Linked DNA regions of Homo sapiens. The protein of the gene in region 1 interacts with the protein of each later gene in a pairwise test. Each region holds a gene or a part of one and is shown in the gene's direction. Other genes may lie near its edges. The genes, in order: TENT5B, RNF11, TNS2 and KRT34.

What was found.
Region 2: the proteins of TENT5B (region 1) and RNF11 interact in binary tests that used the Homo sapiens proteins (3 or more experiments, as listed by UniProt).
Region 3: the proteins of TENT5B (region 1) and TNS2 interact in binary tests that used the Homo sapiens proteins (3 or more experiments, as listed by UniProt).
Region 4: the proteins of TENT5B (region 1) and KRT34 interact in binary tests that used the Homo sapiens proteins (3 or more experiments, as listed by UniProt).

Annotation. Positions count from the first base shown.
Region 1 is NC_000001.11:27,009,832-27,017,066, reverse strand, and holds the start of TENT5B (terminal nucleotidyltransferase 5B), read left to right. Parts: upstream 1-4,216; 5' UTR 4,217-4,396; coding exon 4,397-4,660; intron 4,661-7,235. UniProt on the Homo sapiens protein: Catalyzes the transfer of one adenosine molecule from an ATP to an mRNA poly(A) tail bearing a 3'-OH terminal group in an ATP hydrolysis-dependent manner.
Region 2 is NC_000001.11:51,239,253-51,246,281, forward strand, and holds part of RNF11 (RING finger protein 11), read left to right. Parts: intron 1-7,029. UniProt on the Homo sapiens protein: Essential component of a ubiquitin-editing protein complex, comprising also TNFAIP3, ITCH and TAX1BP1, that ensures the transient nature of inflammatory signaling pathways. Promotes the association of TNFAIP3 to RIPK1 after TNF stimulation.
Region 3 is NC_000012.12:53,060,036-53,064,879, forward strand, and holds the end of TNS2 (tensin-2), read left to right. Parts: coding exon 1-223; intron 224-369; coding exon 370-520; intron 521-639; coding exon 640-1,229; intron 1,230-1,344; coding exon 1,345-1,434; intron 1,435-1,779; coding exon 1,780-1,905; intron 1,906-2,117; coding exon 2,118-2,210; intron 2,211-2,340; coding exon 2,341-2,418; intron 2,419-2,584; coding exon 2,585-2,662; intron 2,663-3,053; coding exon 3,054-3,222; intron 3,223-3,313; coding exon 3,314-3,382; intron 3,383-3,527; coding exon 3,528-3,557; intron 3,558-3,708; coding exon 3,709-3,847; 3' UTR 3,848-4,344; downstream 4,345-4,844. UniProt on the Homo sapiens protein: Tyrosine-protein phosphatase which regulates cell motility, proliferation and muscle-response to insulin. Phosphatase activity is mediated by binding to phosphatidylinositol-3,4,5-triphosphate (PtdIns(3,4,5)P3) via the SH2 domain.
Region 4 is NC_000017.11:41,379,284-41,386,974, reverse strand, and holds the start of KRT34 (keratin, type I cuticular Ha4), read left to right. Parts: upstream 1-4,668; 5' UTR 4,669-4,724; coding exon of another isoform or gene 4,725-4,728; coding exon 4,729-5,076; intron 5,077-5,179; coding exon 5,180-5,262; intron 5,263-5,762; coding exon 5,763-5,919; intron 5,920-7,243; coding exon 7,244-7,405; intron 7,406-7,496; coding exon 7,497-7,622; intron 7,623-7,691.

The DNA of each region.
Region 1 (7,235 bases):
TGAGATCGGGAGTTCGAAACCAGCCTGGACAACATGGTGAAACCCTTTACTAAAAATACAAAAATTAGCCAGGTGTGGGCCTGTAATCCCAGGTACTTGGGAGGCTGAGGCAGGAGAATCATTTGAACCTGGGAGGTGGAGGTTGCAGTGAGCTGAGATTGTGCCACTGTGCTCCAGCCTGGCAACACAGTGAGGCTCTGTCTCAAAAAAAGAAAAAAGTTCTAGAAGGGCAGGGACCTTGCCTATTATTTCTCAGGGCCCAGCCCAGCACCTGGTACACAGATAGGTGCTCAGTATGTATGTTGGCTGATGAATGAATGAATGTATAGATCTTGTGGGTGGTGCCAGGACTGTGCCAAGCATGACTGATCTGTGCTGAGTCTTCTTAGAGGAGCAGTTGAACAATAGGGCTCTGGGGTCAGGAGACCTGGATTTGAGTTCCAAACTGCCAATTAGTGACTGTATAACCTTGGGCATATCACTTAACCTCTCTAAACCTCAGTGTCTTCATCTGTAAATTGGGGATAATGATCCCACATCTTGCGGTGTATCTTTAGGAATTAGAGCTTATGTATGTAAAATAATCTAGTGCATAGTAGGTGTTCAGTAAATGTTAGTTTCCTTTCCCCACACCTCCTTCCTCTGCTGGGGTATGGAGGTGGGGGTAAGAGACAGTGCTGTGGCTGAGCCTCAAGCTCTTTCATCAGTAGCCTCAGAGAGACTTGGTAGTTCAAGGGTTTGGAGACTCTGGACTCAGCCAAAGGCGATTTCTATCTATTTCTTTTCTTTTCTGAGACAGGGTCTCTTTTTGTCACCCAGGCTGGAGTGCAGTGGTGTAAACATGGCTCACTGCAGGCTTGACCTCCCCACCTCAAGCGATTCTCCCACTTCAGCCTCCCAACTAGCTGGGACCACAGGCACGTGCCACCATGCCAGGCTACTTTCTTTTAATTTTTGTAGAGATGAGGTCTCGCTATGAAGGCTGGTCTCAAACTCCTGGTCTCAGATGACTTTCCCACCTCAGCCTCCCAAAGTGCGGGGATTACAGGCATGAGCTACCACTTCCGGCTGCTATCTTTTTTTTTTTAATTTATTTTTATTTATTTATTTATTTTGAGATGGAGTCTTGCTCTGTCGCCCAGGCTGGAGTGCAGTGGCACGATCTCAGCTTACTGGAACTTCCGCCTCCTGGGTTCAAGCAATTCTCCTGCCTCAGCCTCCCAAGTAGCTGGGACTACAGGCACGTGCCACCACACCCGGCTAATTTTTTGTATTTTTAGTAGAGACAGGGTTTCACCATATTGGTCAGGCTGGTCTTGAACTCCTGACCTTATGATCCGCCTGCTTCAGCCTCCCAAAGTGGTGAGATTACAGGAGTGAACAACCGCACCTGGCCTTTTTAAAATTTTTATATAGAGATGAGGTCTCCCTATGTTTTTATGTAGAGATGAGGTCTCCCTGGTCTTACAGGCATGAACCACTGGTCCCCTCCATTTCTTAGCTTTCAAGAAAAGGTAAAACAAAGCAGGCACTTGCCTTGAGGATGATGAAAGGGACTTCCCCAAGGTCACGTGGTCAAGCAGTAGCACAAGTAGTGTGTCCCCTCCCTGAGGGCCAGAGGAAGCCCCTGATCCTAGACAAGATGGAGTGAAGCGAGATGGGCAGCCTCTTGCCTGGGCTCGCCTCCAGAAAGAGGAAGTGGCTGCTCTGTTGTGAGAGTCAGGCTCCTGGGTTTTAGTTCCAGGTCTGTCAGAGTCAACCTGATGGCATTGGGATGTAGTTTACTGTTTCTAGGTCATGATTTCTCCTGTAAATTTGGTGTATTACTCCTTCCCAACCTGCCTGACAGGCGAATGGGAGAATATTACGAGAATGAAATTTAATTTAATATATTGTTAGGAGAACTTTTTTTTGAGAGAGAGAGAGTATAACTATTGTTGCCTAGGCTGGAGTGCAATGGCACAGATCTCGGCTCACTGCAATCTCCGCCTCCCAGGTTCAAGCGATTCTCCTGCCTCAGCCTCCCGAGTAGTTGGGAATACAGGTGCTACAGGTGCCTACCACCACGCCCAGCTAATTTTTTGTATTTTTAGTAGAAATGGGGTTTCACCATGTTAGCCAGGCTGGTCTCAAACTCTTGACCTCAGGTGATCTGCCTGCCTCAGCCTCCCAAAGTGCTGGGATTACAGGCGTGAGCCACCGTGCCTGGTCAGGAGAACAATATTTAAGAAAAAAAATTGCAGCAATGAATCAGATAGACTCAATTTCTGAATTTTTGCTACAGCACATGTTTAAAATCAGAAAAAAAAATTAAAAGCAACAGGTGAGGTTGGGGAAAAATAAAAGTAATAACAGGCCAGGCACAGTAGTTGACACCTGTAATCCCTGCACTTCAGGAGGCTGAAGTGGGCAGATCACTTGAGCCCAGGAGTTCAAGACCAGCCTGGGCAACATGGCCAGACCCTTATCTCTACAAAAAAAAAAAAAAAAACAGAAAAATTAGCTGGGTGCTGTGGCGTGTGCCTGTAGTCCTAGCTACTCAGGAGGCTGGGATTGGGAGGATTGCTTGAGCCAGGGTGGTTGAGGCTGTGGTGAGCCATGATCATGACAGTCAACTCCAGTCCAGGCAACAGAGTGAGACCCTCTCTCAAAAAATAAATAAATAGATAAAAATAAAAAATAAAAGTAACGACAATCATAAGCCTCATCCCCTAGGTCCTGTAAAGTGTGAGAGCAAAACATGTAAACATATTTTTTTTAAATTATGTTTTGTCTAGACCTGCAGAAAAACATGTAAACACATTATTCGTTCTCTAGCTCCAGAAAGGAGCTGGGTCTGCATAGGTACAGTGGAAAAAACATGCACCACAGATTCTATAGCCCTGGTTGAGGACCAGGGCCTTACTAGTTTGCTGTGTGACAGTCGGGTAATCACAAAGCCTCTCTGAGCAGATCTCTCCTTCCCTAAATTGGCTATGCTGTACATCAACGCTCATCATGCTGTGGTTTGCGAGGCCAATCAACAGTGTCTTAGAAAGCCTTTACTTTAGGGCCGGGCACAGTGGCTCACGCCTGTAATCCCAGCACTTTGGGGGTCGAGGTGGGTGGATCACAAGGTCAGGAGTTCAAGACCAGCCTGGCCAATATGGTGAAACCCCCGTGTCTACTAAAAACACAAAAAAATTAGCCGGGCTTGGTGGCGCATGCCTGTAATCCCAGCTAATCGGGAGGCTGAGGCAGGAGAATTGCTTGAACCCGGGAGGCGGAGCTTGCGGTAAGCCAAGATCGCGCCACTACACTCCAGCCTGGGTGACAAAGCGAGACTCTGTCTCGAGAAAAAAAAAAAAAAAAAAAAAAAAAAAGGCCTTTACCTTGGTATGCAGAGTTTATTATTATTATTAATTTTTTTTTTTTTGAGGCGGAGTCTCGCTCTGTCGCCCAGGCTGGGGTGCAGTGGCGCAATCTCGGCTCACTGCAAGCTCCGCCTCCCGGGTTCACGCCATTCTCCTGCCTCAGCCTCCCGAGTAGCTGGGACTACAGGCGCCCGCCACACACCCGGCTAATTTTTTGTATTTTTAGTAAAGACGGGGTTTCACCGTGTTAGCCAGGATGGTCTCGATCTCCTGACCTTGTCATCCGCCCACCTCGGCCTCCCAAAGTGCTGGGATTACAGGCGTGAGCCACCGCGCCGGGCCCAGAGTTGTTTATTATACCTTTCCTAGGCTCTGGAAAACTGCCAGAGCATGAGCAGTGCTGTGCAGAGTTGATCACGTGGCTCAATCTCTTTGGGCTTCTGAAAATAGCAGGACAAGGCTAGGTGACTTCTCAATTTCTTCCAGCGCTAAAAAAAAAAAACAGAAACCTGGAATTTCTCAGTGGTCTGACTCTGCTACAAACTCCGCAGGTCACTTCCCTCCCTCCTGACCCTGGCGGGGCGGGGTGGGCGCTGTCCCTTTAAGTCCAGGCCCGGGCCAATCACAGTGAACAGAAGTTCTTTAAGGACCAAAGGAGGGAATTCAGCCTGAGAAGGAGGGCGGGGCAGGGGCGTGCCCTCTAGCCAATCGGAATCTCCCTAGAGAACAGTGACTCACGTGCAAAGCTCTACAGACCAGTGTCCGGAGCGTTCAGAGGCGGGGCGGCTCTCGCTGTTGGCAGCGGCCCGGACCAATGGGCACGTCGCCCGCGGCCTATAAGAGTCCGCTGGGCCGCGGGCTGCAGGCGCTAGGGTCGGTTAGTCGTCGCCGTCTGAGGTGTTCCCTGGCTTTGTCTCGCCGTCGTTGCCGCCCCGTCCCTGCCTTCGTGCCCCCCGCCTTGGCCCCTGCCCAGCCGCTCTCCCTGTCCTCCTCCCCTTAACCACCCCCACGGTTTCTGCCGTCGGGGCCCGGGGGCCGGGCGGATGATGCCGTCGGAGAGCGGAGCTGAGCGCAGGGACCGGGCGGCTGCTCAGGTGGGGACGGCTGCGGCCACGGCGGTGGCCACGGCAGCCCCGGCAGGCGGCGGCCCCGACCCGGAGGCCTTATCGGCCTTCCCCGGACGGCACCTGAGTGGGCTGAGCTGGCCACAGGTGAAGCGACTGGACGCTCTTCTGAGCGAGCCGATTCCCATTCACGGGCGCGGCAACTTCCCCACGCTGAGCGTGCAGCCCCGGCAGATCGTGCAGGTGAGAGGACGCCAGGCGGGGGATGTGGGGGAATCCCTTCTGAGGCTCTCGTGGCTGGAAGGCATTTGTAGTCTGTTTGACTTTCTAGACAGCTAGGGAAACTGAGGAACGGGGACATGGCTGTAACAATTGCACAGCATTATGAATGGTAGACCAGACCTCCCCCTGCATCTACTAATCCTTCCCCACCTGGCTTTTCCATCTCGACTCTTGGAGAACCCTGATTCCCCACGGATCACTCACCCAGGGCCTGGCTGGGAGAGGGGAGGAGGATGTCAAGGGCATTGGGGGAAGAATTTGTCTCTGCCTGCAAGGACAAAAGACGCCAGGTGGCCCTGGGTGGGTAAGTGTGCATGCTTGAGTCCAAAATAGCTTTTCCTTCCCTATCTGGGCATCCCTGGACCTCACCCTCCTTTCCTCTCTCGAGGTTCTAGGAGCAGCCTCTGCCATTGTGCTCCTACAGCCTTTTGCTGGAGAAACCCCCCCTTCCCCCTCCACCCCGTGGAAAAGCCAAGAAAACTTGTCAGGGACTCCCTCTCTCTCAGCTGGGGTTGTGGCCCAATATTTATTAAGCCGAAGGTCAGACCTGATACCCCACCCCCAAGGGCAACATTAAGTGACCAATTTAGGTGTTTCTTCTCCTTCCCAAGATTGGAAATGAAGGCCAACCCAGGCCTCAGGCCCCACGTCCTCTCTCTCCTGAGGAAAGGGAGAAGAGAATTCTGACAGCCCCTCCCTCCTCCAACTCTTCCCTTTATCTGAACCTCAACGACCCCAAGACTGCTTTTTCATCTGTACAGCCCAGACGCTGTCATGTTCTGAAATACCACAGTGTGGTCATTATTGTACCCATTTTATAGCTGGGGCAGTTTGCCACCCAAGATTACTTAATGAGGTGAAAATCAAACCTAGGGAATTTTGGGTCTTCCCAGGAGCAGATTACAGTAGGTTCAATGTTTTCCCACCCCTTCCCCGGCTCCCAAGGTCAACTTCTAGGTGTTAGGGAGGGTCCTTTGATAAAAGAAACCAAGAAACCCAGCGAGGACTCCTGTGCGTTCCTGCCAACTGATGGCTTCCTTTGGATGAAGTAGGCCTTTCCCCTGCCTCCTACTACCTTGGCTTCCCACAGAGGGGGAGGGTTGCCTGCTGGGGGATTACCTCCCCCACCCTCCCAAGGAACTAGGAACTGGAGGGGGCGGGGGCAGATTCTCCTTGGCTGACTCACACGCGGCCCAGTGGAGTTCGCCGAGGCATTCCTCGGCTGCTCGCTGTCACCTGGGTGATTAGGAAACCAGTCGAGGCTTTAATCCCCGGGACAGTCAAGTCATTCCTGGGGCCCCAGCTGCTGCACCTCCAGGATTGTGGCCCCAGGCATGGCAGGGAGGGGAAGGTGGAGCCCAGTGTGGCAGCCCCCCTCTGCAAGAACAAGGGATACCCTGGAAGGAGGAGAAGTCCTTGCCCTGTCAGTATGGCTCAGATTGCCTCTTGGTGTCTGCTCTGTGCCAAGCCCTGTTTAGGAAACCAAGGGCACAGATGTGACTAGGACTCAGCCTCCATCCCTTCAGGTGCTCCTAGCCAGATGGGGGAGACTCCAGGTCAATAGAAGCTAACTTTACAATGCAATGGTGGTGCCATGTCCTTCTAGACCTGGGTCAGAGATAGCACAGAACAGGGAGCTGTCGGCGATGGTGAGGAAGGGCAGCAGAGACTTCAGAGCTGGGCTGGGAAGTTGGACTTCTGGATTCAGGCCCTGGACTGTTTGTTGTCAATTCTCTTTGCTGGGCTCAGTGTCCCCATCTGTTCAACTGGGATGGATAGATTAGGCTGCTGCTCTCCAACACCCTCTCTGGTTCCAGACTCCAAAGGGGACAGGTGCCTTCACCTGGTCTGTACAGCTGCCTCCACAGCGAAGAAAGTTTCTTGGAAGAAATCCACAGCTGGCAGCTTCTAAAGCTGTTGGGATGTGTGCAGGGATGGGGGCGGGGAGAGGGGGAGGGTGGTGTCGGTTGTTGCCTTGGGGCTTTTCACTGCTGCTGAGTTGTCCTATGGCTCAAAAATTGGAACCTTTCTCCCTCTACCCCCCTGCAAGGCTTTGCCTGTAGTGGCAATCTGAGTGGCTAGAGATTCTGTTCTTGCTTGTACCTGTACTAAAGGGACTCACCCTACTGTAAGGAGCCTTCCCAGAGCTACAGGCAGGGAGGCCTTTTATTGGTTGTGTAACCTTGGACAAGTCCTTTGCCTTCTCTGGGCCCAGAGGATTGAACTAGACAATCTGATTTCTCCAGCTGCAGCCAGAGGGCCTGCATCAGGCGGCAGAGCATGTGAGTTTTGTAAGCCTGCTGGCTGACGGCGTCTGTCAGTCTCCCTGCAGGTCTCAGCAGCAGCCTGGAGCAGAGTGGTTGTGGGGAGGGCCTTGGCATGGGAGAAAGGAGGGTGCAGCCACTGCCCCCTCCATGGCTGGAAAGTCTGATTCAGGAGGCACCAAGCTGCCCTGCAGTACTTGGGTGTGGTGGTATCTGGTGACCGTCTGCCAAACTGGCTGTAGTCACACCTGGGAAGGAGACAACAGCGACTG
Region 2 (7,029 bases), about 24 Mb from region 1:
AAACTGTGTTTGCCTTTTCCAGAAGAACTAGGTGATGATGAGGGATGAGGGGTTTTTGGTGTCATGAAGGAACTTTTTTTGGAAATGTTATATTTTTGACAGTGGGAGTTTTTTATGGTTGCAGTTTCCTGAAGTGAATGACGCAGACTAATATACAAATTCAGTATCAATCAGAAGAAAATTACTTTAAAACATGGGAGCATAAAAAGAAACTTTTGGAGAAAAAGTATTGTCCCCCACCCCCAAAGAAATAAGATCTGTCTTAGGAATGGTTATTTTAGATGATCTGAGAAACAGCAATCCAAGGTTATTTATTCATTTATTTGAGTTGAGAATCTCCCTCTGTCATCCAGGTTAGACTGGATTGCTCACTTGGCAGCCTCAAACTCCTGGCTTCAGGTGATCCTCCTCCCTCAGCCTCCCAAAGACTGGGATTACAGGCGTTAGCTACCTCACACAGCAGATTTATAGTATTCTCAGTTGATAAAAGTAACTTTTTCAACAAATTATATGTAATTAACAGTGAATAGCTGATTGTAAAGGAACATGTTCTCTTGAGGTGAGTAGTTAAAAGATGTCATTGTTTGCTGCTTTATATGTACAATGTACATATAATGACAAGAGCCAGTTACAGTTATTTCCTATTAACATCTGACAAATTTGTTTTTATTTATTTTTGCCTTAAAGTAAATCCCTGCACCATTATGATCCAAGTTTGTAGGAAGTGTATATTTCTTTCCATGGTTTCTTTTGTAGCCTCCTAACAGTTATCCCTGCTTTCACCCTTGTCCTCGCTAAGGCCTGTCCTCAATACAACAGCCACAGTTATTTTGGTAAAACTGAGCATGACAGTCTCCCCAACCCTCTGTGTGGATCCTTGTTTCATTCAAAGTAAAAATCAGATTCCTTATAGTGTCGCATAAACCCTACATAATCTGTACCCCTTGTTTCCACGCATGTCCCTTGACACCTACAGCTAACCCCTTTGTTGGCTTCCCTCCAGCTTCCCTGTCCTCATTGCTATTCTAGGACCTTTGTCCTCCTTATTCTGGAATACTCTTCCCCAGATTTCATGGCTGACTGACTCCCTTACCTCCTTCAAGTCTTTTCTCACTGCCCCCTTAAACCTTCTCTGACCACCCTGTTTGAAAGTGCAACCTGCCCTAATAACCTGGAAGTCCCTCTCACCCTGTTGTTTTCCCCCCCAATACCATTTATTACATTCCAACATGTGTTAGAAAGTTGCGTTGTCTATTACCTGTCTTCTCCCACTAGGTAGAAAGGAGGAAAGGGGATTTTTTTTTTTAATTGGTGTTTCCTAAGTACTTATAACAGTGCCTGGCACATGTTAGGCATTCAGTAATTTGGTTGAACGAATGAATAGATTTCTTTTAAATGAACTAATGTATTTGAGGCAGGTATAGTTGCACTGCTTACAAGAACTCTGCATATTCCTAGTGCCATTTTTGCTTCTATATTGTAGATCAGGTTTTTTTTTGTTTGTTTTTTTGTTTTGTGACTGGGCCTCCCTGTGTTACCCAGGCTGGTCTCTCTCTGTATATATATGTTTGGGTTTTTTTGTTTTCTCTTTTTTGAGACCAAGTCTCACCTTGTTGCCCAGCTAGAGTGCAGTGGTGTCATCTTGGCTCTGCCTCTTGGGTTCAAGCGATTCTCCTGCCTCAGCCTCTGGAGTAGTTGGTACTACAGGCATGCGCCACCAAGGCCAACTGATTTTTGTACTTTTGGTAGAGATGGAGTTTTGCCATGTTGACCAGGCTGGTCTCAAACTCCTGACTTCAGGTGATCTGCCCACCTTGGCCTTCCAGAGTGCTGGGATTACAGGCGTAAGCCCCTGAGCCTGCCCTTTATATTTTTTAAATTTAAAAAATAGAGACAGGGTCTCATTATGTTGCTAGTCTCAAACTCCTGGGCTCAAGGGATACTCCTGCCTCAGCCTCTTGAGTAGCTAGGGTTACAGGTGCACTTCTACTCTGCCTGGCTCAGGTTTTAAAAAAAATTTATTTCCTTTAGAGATGAGGTCTTGCTGTGTTGCCCAGGCTGGAGGGCAGTAGCTATTCACAGGTGCAATTATAGTGCATTGCAGCCTCCACTTCCTGGTCTCAAAGGATCTTGTGGCTTCAGCCTCCTGAGTAGCTGGGACTACAGGGTTACACCACCGTGTCTAGCTGTTGTAGATCAGTTTTAAGGAATCCTAAAAAGTCAAATTCCAGTAATATTAAATACAGCAATTGGTTTACACTAAGTGTTAAGTGATTTAGGGGTTTTTACCGTGTATATATATCACCGCAAGATATTTATGTAATGGGAAAGTACTTGGGGGAGAAAAAGAAAGTACTTGAATCCCTATTCTTGAAGTATTGGATGCAAAGAGATTTAGGGTGTTTGTCAAATTAGAAAGTAGAAACAAATTTGTCGCACCCTCTACCCAACTCCCTTATTCCTAAATGTTTAAAAATAATACAGAGGAAATCTGCCCAGCGAAGGCAATCTTGGAAGGACAGTGAGTGGGAGGATAAGCCAGGAAAGGCTGAAGAAGGGAGGTCCATGAGAGGGGGAGGCCAGGTAGGCAGCCCAGCCCTGAAAGGCATATGTAAAACAGCTTGAGGTACCCCTGTGTCACTGTCAAGAGCTTTGTTATGTGCTAAATTGAGGGAGGCACTTTGTTAAAAGAGTGTAATATTCATTGAACAACAAACCATGTTACATTTTCTAATCTGAATATATAAAAATAAGGATAGGTGTCTCTCAATTTTGCAGTAGTTATATAGTTTGAGATTCGCCAGTCTTCTTCCCCGACCTATACTTTTTGATTGATACATTTGAAATTTTAAAATCCTGAGAAAATAAGTTTGTATAGCATTGAATGCAAGTATAGCTCTGCTTTTAGAGTCAGATTGTCCTGTGTTCAAATTCTGGCTCTGCCGCTTACATGTAAAATATGAAAAAGGAAAGAATTTATCAGATTGTTTTGGGGAGCTTTTTTGACAAATAAGAAAATGTAACATTTTGGATATTTCAAATTGTGTCTGCATAAAGCTTTCTTCAAGATACCTTTTTTTTTTTTTTTTTTTGGCTGGGCACAGTGGCTCACACCTGTCATCCCAGCACTTAGGTGGCAGAGGCAGGAGGATCACTTGACCCCAGGAATTCGAGACCAGCCTGGGCAACAAAGTGAGACCCCCATCTCTATTAAAATACCAAACAAAAACAAAAAACAAACAAAACCAAAAACCCTCTTTTGTTGTTAAAAGGATTGGTTTATCCTGTAGAATGCACTAAAAATAACCCCCTTCCTTATAAAAAATCTAGAATGTACTGCTTATTTTTAAGCATGCAATGCTATAATGTTTTGTGGGGGATGGGCTTGTTTTTTTTAGAGATGGAGTCTCACTTTGCCCAGGCTAGTTTCGAACTCCTGGGCTCAAGTGATCCTCCCACCATGTCTCCCAGTGTTGGGATTACGGATGTGAGTCACTGTGCCCTGCCTGTAATGGTATATTAATGCCTCATTTTCCTGATAACTTACGAAGTTAAATTTAGATAATTAAAGGGTTGTGTTTTTTTATTAGCATTTTGTTTAACATTTGGGTGGAAAATATCTCCAAATTTATTTCACGTATCTAGGCCTTATTATACAATTATTCAGCTTTTAACAATTTACCTTTTTGAAGTTTTATCCCTCCCCTTCTTTATGCTCAAGAAGTTCAGCCTTCTTATTGAGGGGCAGATCAACTAACTCCACCTTTGTTAATAAAGCCTTCACTGACCATTTTTTTCCTGTCTCTGCTGATTTGTCATGTACAGTTTTTTTGTGTTTGTAACATTTATCTGGAAATCATATATTGCCTTATTAGCTTTTGTTGCTTTAACAGTTGTTTCTCCACATCAGTTTCCTCAAGAATGAGAATGATACATTAAACTTGTAAGATATCTTAGTGGAGTAGAATGTTACCTTCCATATTGTAGACACCCAGTGAATATTTGATGATAGACTAAATTAGAACTGTGACTTCTTACCTTGTAAGGTCACCATCATAATTGTCCTCATCAGTTCTTACAGCAACATAATTGATGTCTCCTCCTCATTCATTTTATACCATGTTGCCAGATAAATTTCATCCCGGATCAGATCACTTGCCTCATAATCCTTAATGATTGTTATTATTATTATTATTATTTTTTGAAACAGAGTCTTCACTCTGTTGCCCAGGCTGGAGTGCAGTGGTGCCACCTCAGCTCACTGCAGCCTCCGCCTCCCGGGTCCGAGCAATTCTCCTGCCTCAGCCTCCCGAGTAGCTGGGATTACAGGCATGCGCCACCACACCCAGCTAATTTTTGTATTTTTAATAGAAATGGGGTTTCACCATATTGCTCAGGCTGGTGTGCAACTCCTAACCTCAGGTAATCCACTCACCTTGGCCTCCGTAAGAGCTGGGATTACAGGCGTGAGCCACCACGCCCGGCCCTTAATGATTCTTTATTAGGACTAACCACTGAAGATATCTGACTTAGCATTCAAAGTCATGATTTGGCTCTACATATACTTTTTCAGCTCTTCATAGCCTTGTGCTTTCTTTTATACAACCTGTATACTCCAGTCATACTGAGCAGTTTGCTGTATTCCATGTATGTCTTCTGCTTTCCTGTCTTTGCCCATTCTGTATCCATTGCCCAGAATGTTCTTCCTTAATCCTTCCCAGTCTCATTTCTAATATCCAGGGCCCAGTTCAAATGCCAAGAATCCACGAATTCTGATTTCTCCTACATACACTTTTCTTAATCTGAACTCCTTTATTCATGCACCATTCTTAAGACACTTTACCCTTTTAATTTTAATTATTTGTGACAGTGTCACATCTGCTCTTTTAGAATTCAAGTCTGGTTCATTTTCACATTGCTAGAACTACAATTTTCACAAAGCACGCACTTATACTTTAGTGAATGTAATGATCAGCATTTTGCTGTAAGAGTGTGCAATTGTATGGTTGTTAGTGTCTATTAAGCATTCCCAGAATCCTGTGCTTTAGTGTTTGGCCTATCACTTCTAATTTATAAAGTACGTTGAGCTTTGGGAAAGTTAATTTCATTATATATTTTTTGAATTTGTTTTTTTTTTTGTTTGTTTGTTTGAGACGAAGTCTCGCTGTGTCACCCAGGCTGGAGTGCAGTGGCGCGATCTCAGCTCACTGCAAGCTCCGCCTCCCGGGTTCACGCCATTCTCCTGCCTCAGCCTGTCCCGAGTAGCTGGGACTACAGGTGCCCGCCACCACACCTGGCTAATTTTTTGTATTTTTAGTAGGGACGGGGTTTCACCGTGGTCTTGATCTCCTGACCTTGTGATCCTCCTGCCTCGGCCTCCCAAAGTGCTGGGATTACAAGCGTGAGCCACCGCGCCCAGCCTGAATTTGGTTTTGTGTTCCATGAAGTTCAGCTTGCCTAGGTGACTTTTATAAATAAGTAACCAGTTATTTGTTATTTGTGTGACCCCATTGTTGCAGGATTTTTCTTTGTTTCTGCCTGACCTCTCATTCTGAATGTGCTTTAATAAAGGCTGATTTTTTGGCATTAAGATTGTATGCATCACTAAGAGTAAGATAGTCTGTTCAGAGTTTAATTCTAGAGCTAATTATAGGGTAACTTGAGAAGATGGAGATGGGATGGTGAGTTACTTGGTACATAAGATCTGAGCACTTGATTTTCTTAAAATATTTTTTAGGTAATAGTAGAAACCTTTGTTGCAGAATTTTGATCTTTAAAAGTTTTAATAGAAATACTTATGTAGATTGGGATTCTTTTTCTTTCTTTGAGACATAATCTTACTCTGTTGCCTAGGCTGAATGTAGTGGCATGGTCACGGCTCACTGAAGCCTCAACCTCACGGGCCCAAGCCATCCTCCCACCTCAGCCTCCTGAGTAGCTGGGACTATAGGCGTGCACCACTTTGCCTGGCTAATTTTTATTTTTTGTAGAGACGGGTCAAGCAGTCCTCCCATCTCAGTCTCCTGAATAGCTGGGACCACAGGTGCATACCACCACACCCAGCTATTTTTTGTATTTTTAGTAGAGACGGGGTCTCACTATATTGCCCAGGCTGGTCTCAAACTCCTGAACTCAAGCAGTCCACCCACCTCGGCCTCCCAAAGTGCTGAGATTACAAGTGTGAGCCACCATGCCCACCCAACAGCCTTTTTTTTTGGAGATGGAGTCTTACTCCATCGCCCAGGCTGGAGTGCAGTGGTGCAGTCTCAGCCCACTGCAACTTCTGCCACCTGGGTTCAAGCGATTCTCATGCCTCAGCCTCCTGAGTAGCTGGGATTAGAGGCAAGCACCACCACACCTGGCTAATTTTTTGTATTTTTAGTAGAGATGGGGTTTCACCATGTTGGCCAGACTGGTCTTAACTCCTGACCTCGTGATCCACCCACCTAGGCCTACCAAAGTGCTGAGATTACAGGCGTGAGCTACTGGGCTGGACACCAACAGCCTATTTTTAATAACCCATATGAGTACAGGACAGAAATACATCCCTAACTCTGTACCTGAAGTAAGGAAGGTAATACATAAAAGACATATTTGCAAACGACTTGAGGCAAGAAAAGAAATACAACACATCTCTAATTCTGATTGTATCTGCAATCAACCTCTTATCACTTCCCTCTTCATGTGCAGAATTTACCTTGGCTGAGACACAGTCAAGAAAGAAGACAGGTGGCCAGGCACAGTGGCTCACACCTGTAATCTCAGTACTTTGGGAGGCTGAGGTGGGCGGGTCACCTGAGGTTAGGAGTTTGAGACCAGCCTGACCAACATAGAGAAACCCCGTCTCTACTAAAAATGCAAAAATAGCCGGGTGTGGTGGCACATGCCTGTAATCCCAGCTACTTGGGAGGCTGAGGCAGGAGAATCTCTTGAACCCAGGAGGTGGAGGTTGTGTTGAGGCTAGGTTGCGCTGTTGCACTCTAGCCTGGGCAACAAGAGTGAAACTCCATCTCAACAACAACAACAAAA
Region 3 (4,844 bases), on another chromosome or scaffold:
TGCCCAGCATATGGCCGTGTGCCTCATAGCTGTGGCTCTCCAGGAGAGGGCAGAGGGTATCCCAGCCCTGGTGCCCACTCCCCACGGGCTGGCTCCATTTCCCCGGGCAGCCCGCCCTATCCACAATCTAGGAAGCTGAGCTACGAGATCCCTACGGAGGAGGGAGGGGACAGGTACCCATTGCCTGGGCACCTGGCCTCAGCAGGACCTTTGGCATCTGCAGGTGAGGGGCACCAGAGTGCGGAGTGCCCAGGGCAGAGGAGGTTCTGGAAGATGGTGGGGAAGTCAAGGGGGAACAGGGTGAGAAACAGCTAAGCCAGACAGAAGAGCCCCATCCTGCTCACAGCCCACCTCTCCCCTTCACTGCAGAGTCGCTGGAGCCGGTGTCCTGGAGGGAGGGCCCCAGTGGGCACAGCACACTGCCTCGGTCTCCCCGAGATGCCCCATGCAGTGCTTCGTCAGAGTTGTCTGGTCCCTCCACGCCCCTGCACACCAGCAGTCCAGTCCAGGGCAAGGAAAGGTATGCAGAGGGGCCGGGGATGCTCGAGTGCTTTCTTGTCCAAGCAGTTGATGAAGGCAGGTGGGGTGGGAGCAGCCACAATGGGGGCTCTGCTGACCATCTGCCCTTCCACCCTACAGCACCCGGCGACAGGACACCAGGTCCCCCACCTCAGCGCCCACTCAGAGACTGAGTCCTGGCGAGGCCTTGCCCCCTGTTTCCCAGGCAGGCACCGGAAAGGCCCCTGAGCTGCCGTCGGGAAGTGGGCCTGAGCCTCTGGCCCCTAGCCCAGTCTCTCCGACCTTCCCTCCCAGCTCGCCCAGTGACTGGCCTCAGGAAAGGAGTCCAGGGGGCCACTCAGATGGCGCCAGTCCTCGGAGCCCTGTGCCCACCACACTTCCTGGCCTCCGCCACGCCCCCTGGCAAGGCCCTCGAGGCCCCCCCGACAGCCCAGATGGGTCTCCCCTCACTCCTGTGCCTTCCCAGATGCCCTGGCTTGTGGCCAGCCCAGAGCCGCCTCAGAGCTCACCTACACCTGCTTTCCCCCTGGCTGCCTCCTATGACACCAATGGCCTTAGCCAGCCCCCACTTCCTGAGAAACGCCACCTGCCCGGGCCGGGGCAACAGCCAGGACCCTGGGGCCCAGAGCAGGCATCATCGCCAGCCAGAGGCATCAGTCACCATGTCACCTTCGCACCTCTGCTCTCAGATAATGTCCCCCAAACCCCAGGTATAAAGGCCTTGAGGGGGTTGGTGCCACCTTGAGAGAACCCTTTCTCCTGGGATGTAGCATGGATGGGGACCCGGGTACCCTGGGGTCTGAACCTACTCCCTCCCTGTCCTAGAGCCTCCTACACAAGAGAGCCAAAGCAATGTCAAGTTTGTCCAGGATACATCCAAGTTCTGGTACAAGCCACACCTGTCCCGTGACCAAGGTGAGAAGCCAGCCTGCCCCCACCCCACTGCATCCCACCTTCCAGGGTGTCTGTCTTGGCTTTAAGTCCCATCCTGTTGAAGCTCTTGGCTCCTCCTGTCTGAGCTGTGTTTACTCTTGGCTGAGTGTTTACCAGCAGGTGATTCTGGGCTTTGGGCCAAGGCGGTGAGATCCAACATGGTCAAAACCCCTGTGAACTCTAGAGCCCTGGCCTCAGACTCTTACCGCCACCACAGCTGTCAGGGCAGAGACCATGGAGCTTGGCAGCAGAGGAGGGGGGCTGCATGGGGCTCAGTCCACCCCTGTGAAAACTCCTCCCCACTGCCCGCTACCCCTCACCCTGCAGCCATTGCCCTGCTGAAGGACAAGGACCCTGGGGCCTTCCTGATCAGGGACAGTCATTCATTCCAAGGAGCTTATGGGCTGGCCCTCAAGGTGGCCACACCGCCACCCAGTGCCCAGCCCTGGAAAGGTACAGAACACCCAAACCTGAGTGGGGTGGGGATGAAGTTGGGGGTGGTGCCAGAGGCAAGGTAACAGGGCAGGTGGGGGTGCTGTGCTGGCCATGCCGCTGTAGAGGGGAGAGGTAGGAAAAGACCTCAGCTGCTCGGGAAAGAATCCCATTAGGGAAGAAGCTGGAACCTGGAATCCTAAAGCCGCAATCTTCCCCTCGCCTCCTCTCAGGGGACCCCGTGGAACAGCTGGTCCGCCATTTCCTCATCGAGACTGGGCCCAAAGGGGTGAAGATCAAGGGCTGCCCCAGTGAGCCCTACTTTGGTGAGAAGCAGGAGCCTGGGGAAGGCTACGTTGGGTCGGTTTAGGGAGATGCCAAGGGATCTCAGGAGGATGGAAGGGAAAGGCGGGGCACCCTGGGCATCTCGGGACTTTCCTACCTCCTCTCCCACAGGCAGCCTGTCCGCCTTGGTCTCCCAGCACTCCATCTCCCCCATCTCCCTGCCCTGCTGCCTGCGCATTCCCAGCAAAGGTGAGTGTCTGGTCATCTGTCCTCCCCACCTCTCCCTACCCCCTGCAGCCAAAGCAGGATCCAGAGGTCTTGGCTCCCCGCCTTCCCTTGGGGAAGCAGAGGGAGTGCTCCAGCCTGGGGAACACTCTGCCTTCTGAGCTTCCCTGTCGGTTCTCATTGCCCTCAGATCCTCTGGAAGAGACCCCAGAGGCTCCAGTGCCCACCAACATGAGCACAGCGGCAGACCTCCTGCGTCAGGGTGCTGGTAGAGACTTCCCCTCCACTCCCCTCCCTCTCCCTGGGCACCAAGGGGGCATTGTGGATACAGGGCATGGGGCACTGAAAGGCCTTGAGGTGGGTGAGCCCTGGCCAACCCATGAGGGCAGGGGAGCCCCATACTGTCGGGGATGAGGAATTGGGTCCTCAGCCTAGGTTCTCAAAGTCTCATGAACAAGACGATCATGGGGTGGTAGCAGGGAGGCTTCTCTGCCTCGCTTCTGACTGTAGATCCAGTAGAGTCATGGAATCTGCCTTTTTAACAAGTCACCTATGTGATTGTAAAGCATGTGACAGCAGTAGCTGGGGAATGTGCAAGAGCTGGTGGGGGTGGCTAGGGGATGGGCACTCCCTCCCTGACCCACTCCCTGCCCCTGTAGCCTGCAGCGTGCTCTACTTGACCTCAGTGGAGACAGAGTCACTGACGGGCCCCCAAGCTGTGGCCCGGGCCAGCTCTGCAGCTCTGAGCTGTAGCCCCCGCCCGACACCAGCTGTTGTCCACTTCAAGGTGTCAGCCCAGGGCATTACACTGACGGACAACCAAAGGAAGTATGTATACTCAGCCCTGTAGAACCCCATGCTTAAGGCCCCTGGGGGCTCATGTTTCTGAGTGTGACCTTCCTCACCCTCCTCCTTGCAGGCTCTTCTTTCGCCGCCATTATCCAGTGAACAGCATCACCTTCTCCAGCACTGACCCTCAAGACCGGAGGTGACTCTCCCTCCAAACCCTTTGCCCCAAATCCCCATGGTCCCACCAGGTCCCAGCTCCCAGCCCCAGCCCCAGCCCCGGCCCCGGCCCCCCTTCAGCAGCTGTCCCCTGGGGTGTGCATCTTCACCTTCTTCTCCTTCTGCAGATGGACCAACCCAGACGGGACCACCTCCAAGTAAGCCTCCCCACGAATTCAGCCTCTTCCTTCCAAGGGACCAGGGCGCTGCTGTCCTCTCAATGCTGGCATTTGATTTGTCTCACCAAGGCCAGCTACATTCCCTTGTGGAAGGAATGTTAAGCCCCTTCCCCACCCTTTATCCCCCTAGGATCTTTGGTTTCGTGGCCAAGAAGCCGGGAAGCCCCTGGGAGAATGTGTGTCACCTCTTTGCAGAGCTTGACCCAGATCAGCCTGCTGGCGCCATTGTCACCTTCATCACCAAAGTTCTACTGGGCCAGAGAAAATGAAGGAAGGCCACAAGCTCAGAGCCCACATCAACACTGCCCCCCTCCCAGCACCCCACAGCCCTCACATCCCCTGGCCTGGACCCAGGAGACCCAGGAGAAAGCACCCTCCCTTAGGAATGAGGAGTGGGCATCAGGCCTGGGACACTGCTCTCCTTCCCCGCCCCCAGCCTGCTAAGTTAAGTGGACAGGCCCACAAGATGACCTTGCATGTGAGCAGATGGCAGAGATGGGTGTGTGAGGGGTGAGGAGGCATCAGCAGTTGAGCCCCGAAGGAGATCAGGCAGCCCCACCTGCAGGAGAACGTCAGCCCTCCAGGGGATCAGCCCCTGCCAGTTCCACCCAGCTGCAGGTGCCAGCACGGCAGGGATGGGAGAGGGGTGGGGAGCGAGTCACTGCCTCCTCTGAGCAGAGATTCAGAGTAGGATCACATGAATAGGGGAAAAAAGAGAGTCTATTTTTGTCTAATAATAAAGAATTTCTATAAACTTTAGCCGAAATTGGAGTCAACACTTATTCACAGGAAGGTCAAAGCCTCATCTCCCAGGGGACGTATCTGTGCTCAGGCCTGTAGCCAGGCCCATGGAACATATGATTCCCATCCCTGGCCCAACATTGGTCCACATCTCCCCATGAGCAAGCTGCCTTCGGCTGCCCCCATCCAGCAGTCCTGTTCCTAGCCCAGTGGACTAGAAAGGCTCCTGGTTCCGGCCATACTGATAAATACGGAAACTCCATCTTTATCGGCTGTATAAACATCTCTGGTCTGTACATACATTTCATACATCGTAGGGTGGGAAGCGAGGGCCAAAGGGAGGCCCAGCAGCACAACAGCTCACCCGCTTTCCCTACAGCCCTACCCGCTCTGTGCAAACCAAGGCCAACAGCTCCTGCTGCCTCTTCCTCCCTGGAAAAGTCACTGTTACGGGGAGGGGGCCAGGGGTTGAAGGATTAGAAGGAGATAGAGGGCTTGGTGGGGAGGACACATGTAAGTGCTAGA
Region 4 (7,691 bases), on another chromosome or scaffold:
AAACAAAATAACCATAATTAAAGATGCTCTGCAAGGCCAGAAGAACAATACACAAAGTGAGAATTTTCAACAAAAAGGCAGAAAATACAAAAAGTACCAAACAGAAATCATGCTGCTGAAAAATACAATAACTGAATTGAAAAATTCAATAGAGGGATTCAATAGCACACTAAATCAAGCAGGAGATAGGATCAGTGAACTCAAAGTCAGGCCATTGGAAATTATCCAGAGGAACAAAAAGAAAAAAGAATAAAAAAGAGTAAAGAAAGCTTAAGAGATGTATGGGACATCATCAGGCAGACCAACATTCACATTAGGAAGATCCAGAAGGAGAAGAGAGAGAGAAAGTTTAGAAAACTTATTAAAAAAAATAATGGCTCAAAACTCCTGAAACCTGAGAAAGAACATTGACATCCAGATCCAGGAAGCCCAGTGTATCCCAAATAAGATGTTCAGATAAATCAAAGTGATACACATTATAATTGAATTGTCAGAAGTCAAAGACAAATAGGGAATTTTGAAAGCAGCAAGAGAAAAGTGACATCATGTACAAGGGAACCTCCATAAGGTAATTAATACATTTCTTAGCAGAAACTTTGCAGGCCGGAAGGACATGGGATAATATATTTAAAGTGCTGAAAACAAACCAACCAACCAACAAACAAACTGCCAACCAAGAATATCATTCCCAGTACAATTATCCTTCAAAACTGAAGGAGAGATACAGACTTTTATAGATAAACAAAAGCTGAGGTAGTTCATCATCGCTGGACCTGCCTTACAAAAAATGTTAAAGGAAGTTCTTTAAGTTGGAACAAAAGGATGTTAAACAGTAATATAAATGCATGTGAAAGTATAAAACTTGCTGGTAAATGTAAATATACTGATAAATATAGACTACTGTAATACTATAATGGTGGTAGGTAAATCACTCTTTTAATTCTACTATAAAATTTATTTATTTATTTATTTATTTATTTATTTATTTATTTATTTATTTATTTTTGAGACAGAGTTTCACTCTTGTCACCCAGGCTGGTATGCAGTGGTGTGATCTTGGCTCACTGCAACCTCCGCCTCCCGGGTTCAAGCGATTCTCCTGTCTCAGCCTCCTGAGTAGCTGGGATTATAGGTGCCTGCCACCACGCCCAGCTAATATTTATATTTTTAGTACAGACAGAGTTTCTCCATGTTGGCCAGGATGTTCTCGAACTCCTGACCTCAGGTGATCTGCCCTCCTCAGCCTCCAAAAGTGCTGGGATTATAGGTGTGAGCCACCACACTTGGCCCTCTACTATAAAATTTAAAAGATAAAAGTATTAAAAATAACTATAACTATAAAAATAGGTTAATGCATATGCAATATAACAAGATGTAAATAATGACATCAATACATAAAAGATGTGTGTGGGAGAAGCAAAAGAGTAGTTTTTGTATGCAGTGAAAGTTATCAGCTGAAAACAGACAGTTATAAGTTGTTTCATATAAGCCCTATGATGATCACAAAAAAATACCTATAGAAGATACACAAAAGAAAAAGAAAAAAGAATAAAAACATATCGATACAAAAATCCATGCAACACAAAGGAAGACAGCAAGATAGGAAAAGAGAGACAAAAGAACTCTGAGAAAGACAAAAGAATTAACAAAATGGCAATATTAGTCTTTCCCTATCAATAATTTATTGAAATGTAAATGAATTAAACTCTCCAATCAAAAGACATGGAGTAGCTGAATGGATTTTCAAAAAACCAACAAGTACTATCTACATACTATCTAGAAGAGACTGACTTTAGATTTAAAGACAATGTATAGGCTGAAAGTGAAGGAATGGGAAAAAAAATATTCCGTACAAATGGTAACCAAAAGACAGCAGGATGGCTGTACTTATATATCAGACAAAATAGTCTTTAAGTCAAAAATTGTCACAAAAGGCAAAGAAGAACATTATATAATAATGAAAAAATTCACCAGGAAGATATAACAATTGCACACATATATGAACCCAACATCAGAGCACCTAATATATATATAACAAACATTGACAGAACCAAAGGGAGAAATGGACAATGCAATAATAGAAGAATTCAGTAACTCACTTTTGATAATGAATAGAACATTCAGATAGAAAATCAACAAGGAAACAACAGATTTGAGCAATACTATAGAACAAATGGACCTAACAAATAACACGTTCTATCCAATGGTAGCAGAATGCATATTCTCCAGTGCATGCGGAACATTGTCCAGGATAGATCATATGTTGGGTCACAAAACAAGTCTTAACGAATTTAAGAGGATTGAAATCATACTAAGTATCTTTTCCTACCACAATGGAATGAAACTAGAAAACTAGAACGGAAATAAGAAAAAAACTGAAAAATACACAAATATGTAGAAATTAAAAAACATTTAAATAATCAATGGGTCAAAGAAGAAATCAAAAAGGAAATTAGAAAATATCTTGAGACAAATGAAAATGAGAACACAACGTATCAAAATTTATGGGATGCAGCAAAAGCAGTACTAAGAGGAAAGTTTTATATATGTATATACATAAACCTATATCTAAACATACACACACGCCTACCATGTACCTACAAAAATTAAAAAATTAAAAAAGATAAAGAACAAACTAAGCTCAAAGTTAGCAGCAGGAAGGATATAATAACACTTTTTGCTCTAAATTTTATTATGATACTTACGATAAAACTTAGAGCAGAAATAAATAAAAATAGAGACTAGAAAAACAATAGCAAAAAATCAATGAAACAGAGTTTTTTTGAAAGACACAGAAAATTTACAAACCTCTAGATAGACTAAGAAAAAAAGAGGAAACACTCAAATAAATAAAATCGAAGATGTGCTTTTCTGCTCCTCTCATGCTGCTTTTGAAATTCAGATGCAGCCTTCTTTAAATGATTTGTATTGTGTTCCACAAATAATCTTTTGGGACTTCTTTCTGAAACATGACTTTGTTTCCCTGCGGAACAAAGGCAAGGTAGAGTGACAGGGAAAAGAAGTGAGGTAGGGAAGGCTATTCTGTGAAGAGTGATTATTGGGCAATAGAGAGGCTCCCTAGGTTATGCAAGAGTCAAAGGGTAACTGGATCCCAGAGGTGATAGAAGCACACTTATCAGAGACAGTGTCTACTTGTAGGGACAACAGAGTAAATCTGCATTCTCATGGGCACTGTGGCTTGTCCTGGAAGCATCTCAGGCTGGCATAGTCATACCTCTAGGAGAGTTAATACTCTAGAAAGAGGAACAAGTCTAGAAATAAGATGATAGAAATTTCCAGAGAATTTGAGAAAAAGCCACCATGGATACAAAGATACCTCTGAGCACCCTTGCTCCAATTTTCGTTTCTTGGTGAGTCTGCAGTATTATGCTTCATATTCATGCTTCAGTGCTGCCATCTGAACTCTCACTGCTCCAGACTGTTTCCAGCATATTTTTTCTTCTAGATATTTCTACTCTTGCTCATCTTTAGAGAGGCTGTTGCTTTAGTACAAGTTGGCAAATTTTTTAATTTTAGGGCTTTGTGGACACTATAGTCTCTGTCACAACTACACAACTCTGCCACTGTAGCACAAAAGCAGCCATATACAATAGCTAAACAAATGGGCATGGCTGTGTTCCATTAAAACTTTATTTACTGCCGGACGCATTGGCTCACGCCTGTAATCCCAGCACTTTGGGAGGCCGAGGCGGGCGGATCACGAGTTCAGGAGTTCAAGAGCAGCCTGGCCAACATGGTGAAACCCCATTTCTGCTAAAAACACAAAAATTAGCCGGGTGTGGTGGCGGGCACCTGTAATCCCAGCTACTCGGGGGGCTGAGGCAGATAATTGCTTGAACCCGGGAGGTGGAGGTTGCAGTGAGCCGAGATCGTGCCACTGCACTCCAGCCTGGGCGACAGAGTGAGACTCTGTCTCAAAAAAAAAAAAACAGAAAACAAACAAACAAAAACTTTATTTACAAAAATTCAGCAGGGTAAACTTGACGTGTGGGCTGCCATTTGCAGATGCCCTCTTTTAGGTATACTCCCATCCATTCCATTGGTTTCCATTTTACTTTCTCATTTCTCAACCATGAACATGCCATTGTTTTCAGTTGCTCCATGTGTTGGCAAGTTCCCTAAACCCCAACGAATAGTAAGGCTCAGGATCATTTCGGCGAATACAGGTTGAGTTTCTGCTATAAAAACAAATTGAATGCTGAAACATGGATGAATGTGGGAGGAAAGAGCTACTTGGAAGAGTAACTCTCAAAGCTCTCTCTCAGAGCTCTCTCTCTGGGGAGAAAGAACAGTGGCGGAAACTCCTGGGTGAGGAATCCCTGATTCCCAAACAACTCCACCCCATGTCCCTGGCTGTCCTCCCCTCTGAGTAATGCAGACAGCCTTTTGGGGCTGTGATGATTCTATCTCCTATGAAGCCATCTGATGAAACTCTGATTTCACCAACCACTAGCACCCAGGAAGAGCCTGGTGTGACATAAGCTGAATGGAATAATTTTATGGGTTGAGGGGGGACTCTTTAGAAGCATCTAACTAGCATATTTTGGAGAAAAATTAGCTGAAGCATTAGGAAAGGAAACTATGCTGTATGCCAAGCCCCCACCCACAATTAATGGTATAAAAGGACTGCAGAGGAAGGAGAGACTCAAACCTGCCCACATCCACCTCCAGCAGCTTACCTGCTTTTCCATTACCTGTTCCAGCACCATGTCTTACAGTTGTTGCCTGCCCAGCCTGGGCTGCCGCACCAGCTGCTCCTCCCGGCCCTGCGTGCCCCCCAGCTGCCACGGCTACACCCTGCCTGGGGCCTGCAACATCCCCGCCAATGTGAGCAACTGCAACTGGTTCTGTGAGGGCTCCTTCAATGGCAGCGAGAAGGAGACTATGCAGTTCCTGAACGACCGCCTGGCCAGCTACCTGGAGAAGGTGCGTCAGCTGGAGCGGGACAACGCGGAGCTGGAGAAACTCATCCAGGAGCGGTCCCAGCAGCAGGAGCCCTTGCTGTGCCCCAGCTACCAGTCCTACTTCAAGACCATTGAGGAGCTCCAGCAGAAGGTGAGGGGGTTGGCCATATGGGGGGCCAGCAGCAGCTGGCTCTCTTTGAACAGTAAGACATTTTCAAGTTCAAGTGTACCTCATGAGAGAAATTTCTTTTCAGATTCTGTGTGCCAAGGCTGAGAATGCCAGGCTGGTGGTGAACATTGACAATGCCAAGCTGGCCTCTGACGACTTCAGAAGCAAGTATGTTGAACTTCAAGGTCCCTATGGTTCTTTCATGGCCCTAGGGACCTACTATTGCCTGGAAGAGAGGAGAAAGCCATTTCTCTCTATTTCTCCTCCTAGGGCTGGTTATGTAAAATTAGTTTCAAATAGGGAACTAGACTCATGTGCTGCCTGCTCTTTGGTCTATACTGGTTTTTTTTGGAAGTGTTTCTTAAACCACAAAATTCAGAGATTGAAATGAATTGTTCTTTGGGAATTGATTTGGTGGTATATTAGCTAACAAAACCGAGAACACAGTGAGAGACTTCATCTCATGTGTGCCTGTGGGCTCCTCGTGGTGTTAGGTGAGTCAGGGAACCTCTTCAGCCTATCCATGGACAGCTTGACTGAAGCATATGGAAGAGAAGAGGCAGAAAACTGTAAGTTCAAGAAGATTCAGGCCAATTCTACCCAAACAACACATGAGAGGGGAAGGTGGTTTTCTTTCCTGACTTATCCTCCCACTCCGACACGTGCAGGTACCAGACGGAGCAGTCCCTGAGGCTGTTGGTGGAGTCGGACATCAACAGCATACGCAGGATCCTGGATGAGCTGACCCTCTGCAAGTCTGACCTGGAGTCCCAGGTGGAGTCCCTGAGGGAGGAGCTGATCTGCTTGAAGAAGAACCATGAGGAGGTATGAAACAAATTCACAAAAGCAGGCCTCAGAACTAAGCTACTAGCACTGGGAATCAGGAGAGGATTACTGTCTGGATCCCTGGTCTGGGACCCTTCTCTGAGGAACTCAAGATGTTCTCAGAGAGTGACGGTGCTACATCCATATCAAGGAGTGGAGTGAGCTGCTCATTCTTCAGCGGCTGGGTGAGGGTTAGGCAGGTGTTGGAATTACTGAGGAGGGACATCATTCATTGAGCCCTGCTCTCTGCTGATCACTGCTAGGTCCTGAATTTGGTGGTGGAGATGGAGGGACAAAAAAGAAATAAGACATGGCCCTTTTCTTAAAAGAGCTCACAGTCTAGTATAGAAAGACAGTCATATAAACACAGTGATATAAACAAGACAGAGTGAAACAAGTACCATATGAGATGTACAAGCAGTATGCTCTAGAAATAATCCAGGCTGCCCAAGAGGAGATAGGGAACTCTTCTCAGATGCAAAGAGGAGGATTCCAGTACTTGGGTGTTTCAGTCTGAGGGAAGAGGTTGAACAAAGACACAGAAGTGGCAGGGCAGGGTGTATCTGGGTATGGCTGGGCATGCAGTACCTCCAAGGGATGAAAGTGAAGATGTGATGGGAAGCGAGGAAGGACTTGCATATGCCAAGGAGTTTAGACTTAGTCTTGTAGAAGGTGTGAGGTTGTTTCCGTTTCTATGGGACAACAATTGACGTGATCCCTGTTGGAGTTTATTGCTATAAAATGTGTGTGTCACTCTTTGGGAATGATCAGAATCTTCCTTTTAGTGCTTTTTTTTTTTTGACGGAGTCATGCTCTGTCACCAGGCTGGAGTGCAGTGGCGTGATCTAGGCTCACTGTAACATCCGACTCCCTGGTTCAAGTGATTCACTTGCCTCAGCCTCCTGAGTAGCTGGGATTACAGGCACATGCCACCACGCCCAGCTAATTTTTGTATTGTTAGTAGAGATGGGGTTTCACCATGTTGGCTAGGATGGTTTCGATCTCCTGACTTCGTGATCCACCTGCCTCTGCCTCCCAAAGTGCTGGGATTACAGGCTTGAGCCACTGTGCCCGGCCCCTTTTAGTGCTTTCTGGGCAGCATCAAGCTCATTTTCCCAGAGCAGGAAGATGGCACATCTTCCATGGGACAGCAATTGATGTGATCCCTGTTGGAGTTTATTGCTATAAAATGTGTGTGTCACTCTTTGGGAATGATCAGAATATTCCTTTTAGTGCTTTTTGGGCAGTATTGTGCTCATTTCCCTGGAGCAGGAAAATGGCAGATCCATTGCCGTAGGTTCATTGTTTCCCTTTTCTCCAACAGGAGGTTAACACCCTGCGCTCCCAGCTTGGAGACCGCCTCAACGTGGAGGTGGACACTGCCCCCACTGTGGACCTGAACCAGGTCCTGAACGAGACCAGGAGTCAGTATGAGGCTCTGGTGGAAATTAACCGCAGGGAAGTGGAGCAATGGTTCGCCACGCAGGTGGGCATCTAAGCACATGGCCACTCAGGACCCGAGGTGCCCCAGGGCCCTGGAGACAGGGTCTGATCCTTTCCCCACTTGGGTGTTTCAGACCGAGGAGCTGAACAAGCAGGTGGTATCCAGCTCAGAGCAGCTGCAGTCCTGCCAGGCGGAGATCATCGAGCTGAGACGCACAGTCAACGCCCTGGAGATCGAGCTGCAGGCCCAGCACAACCTGGTGTGTATTGTTCAGACCTGCTGGTGAGCGATGGGAACTTGGGAGGCAGAGTCCCGGGGATGTGCTTGG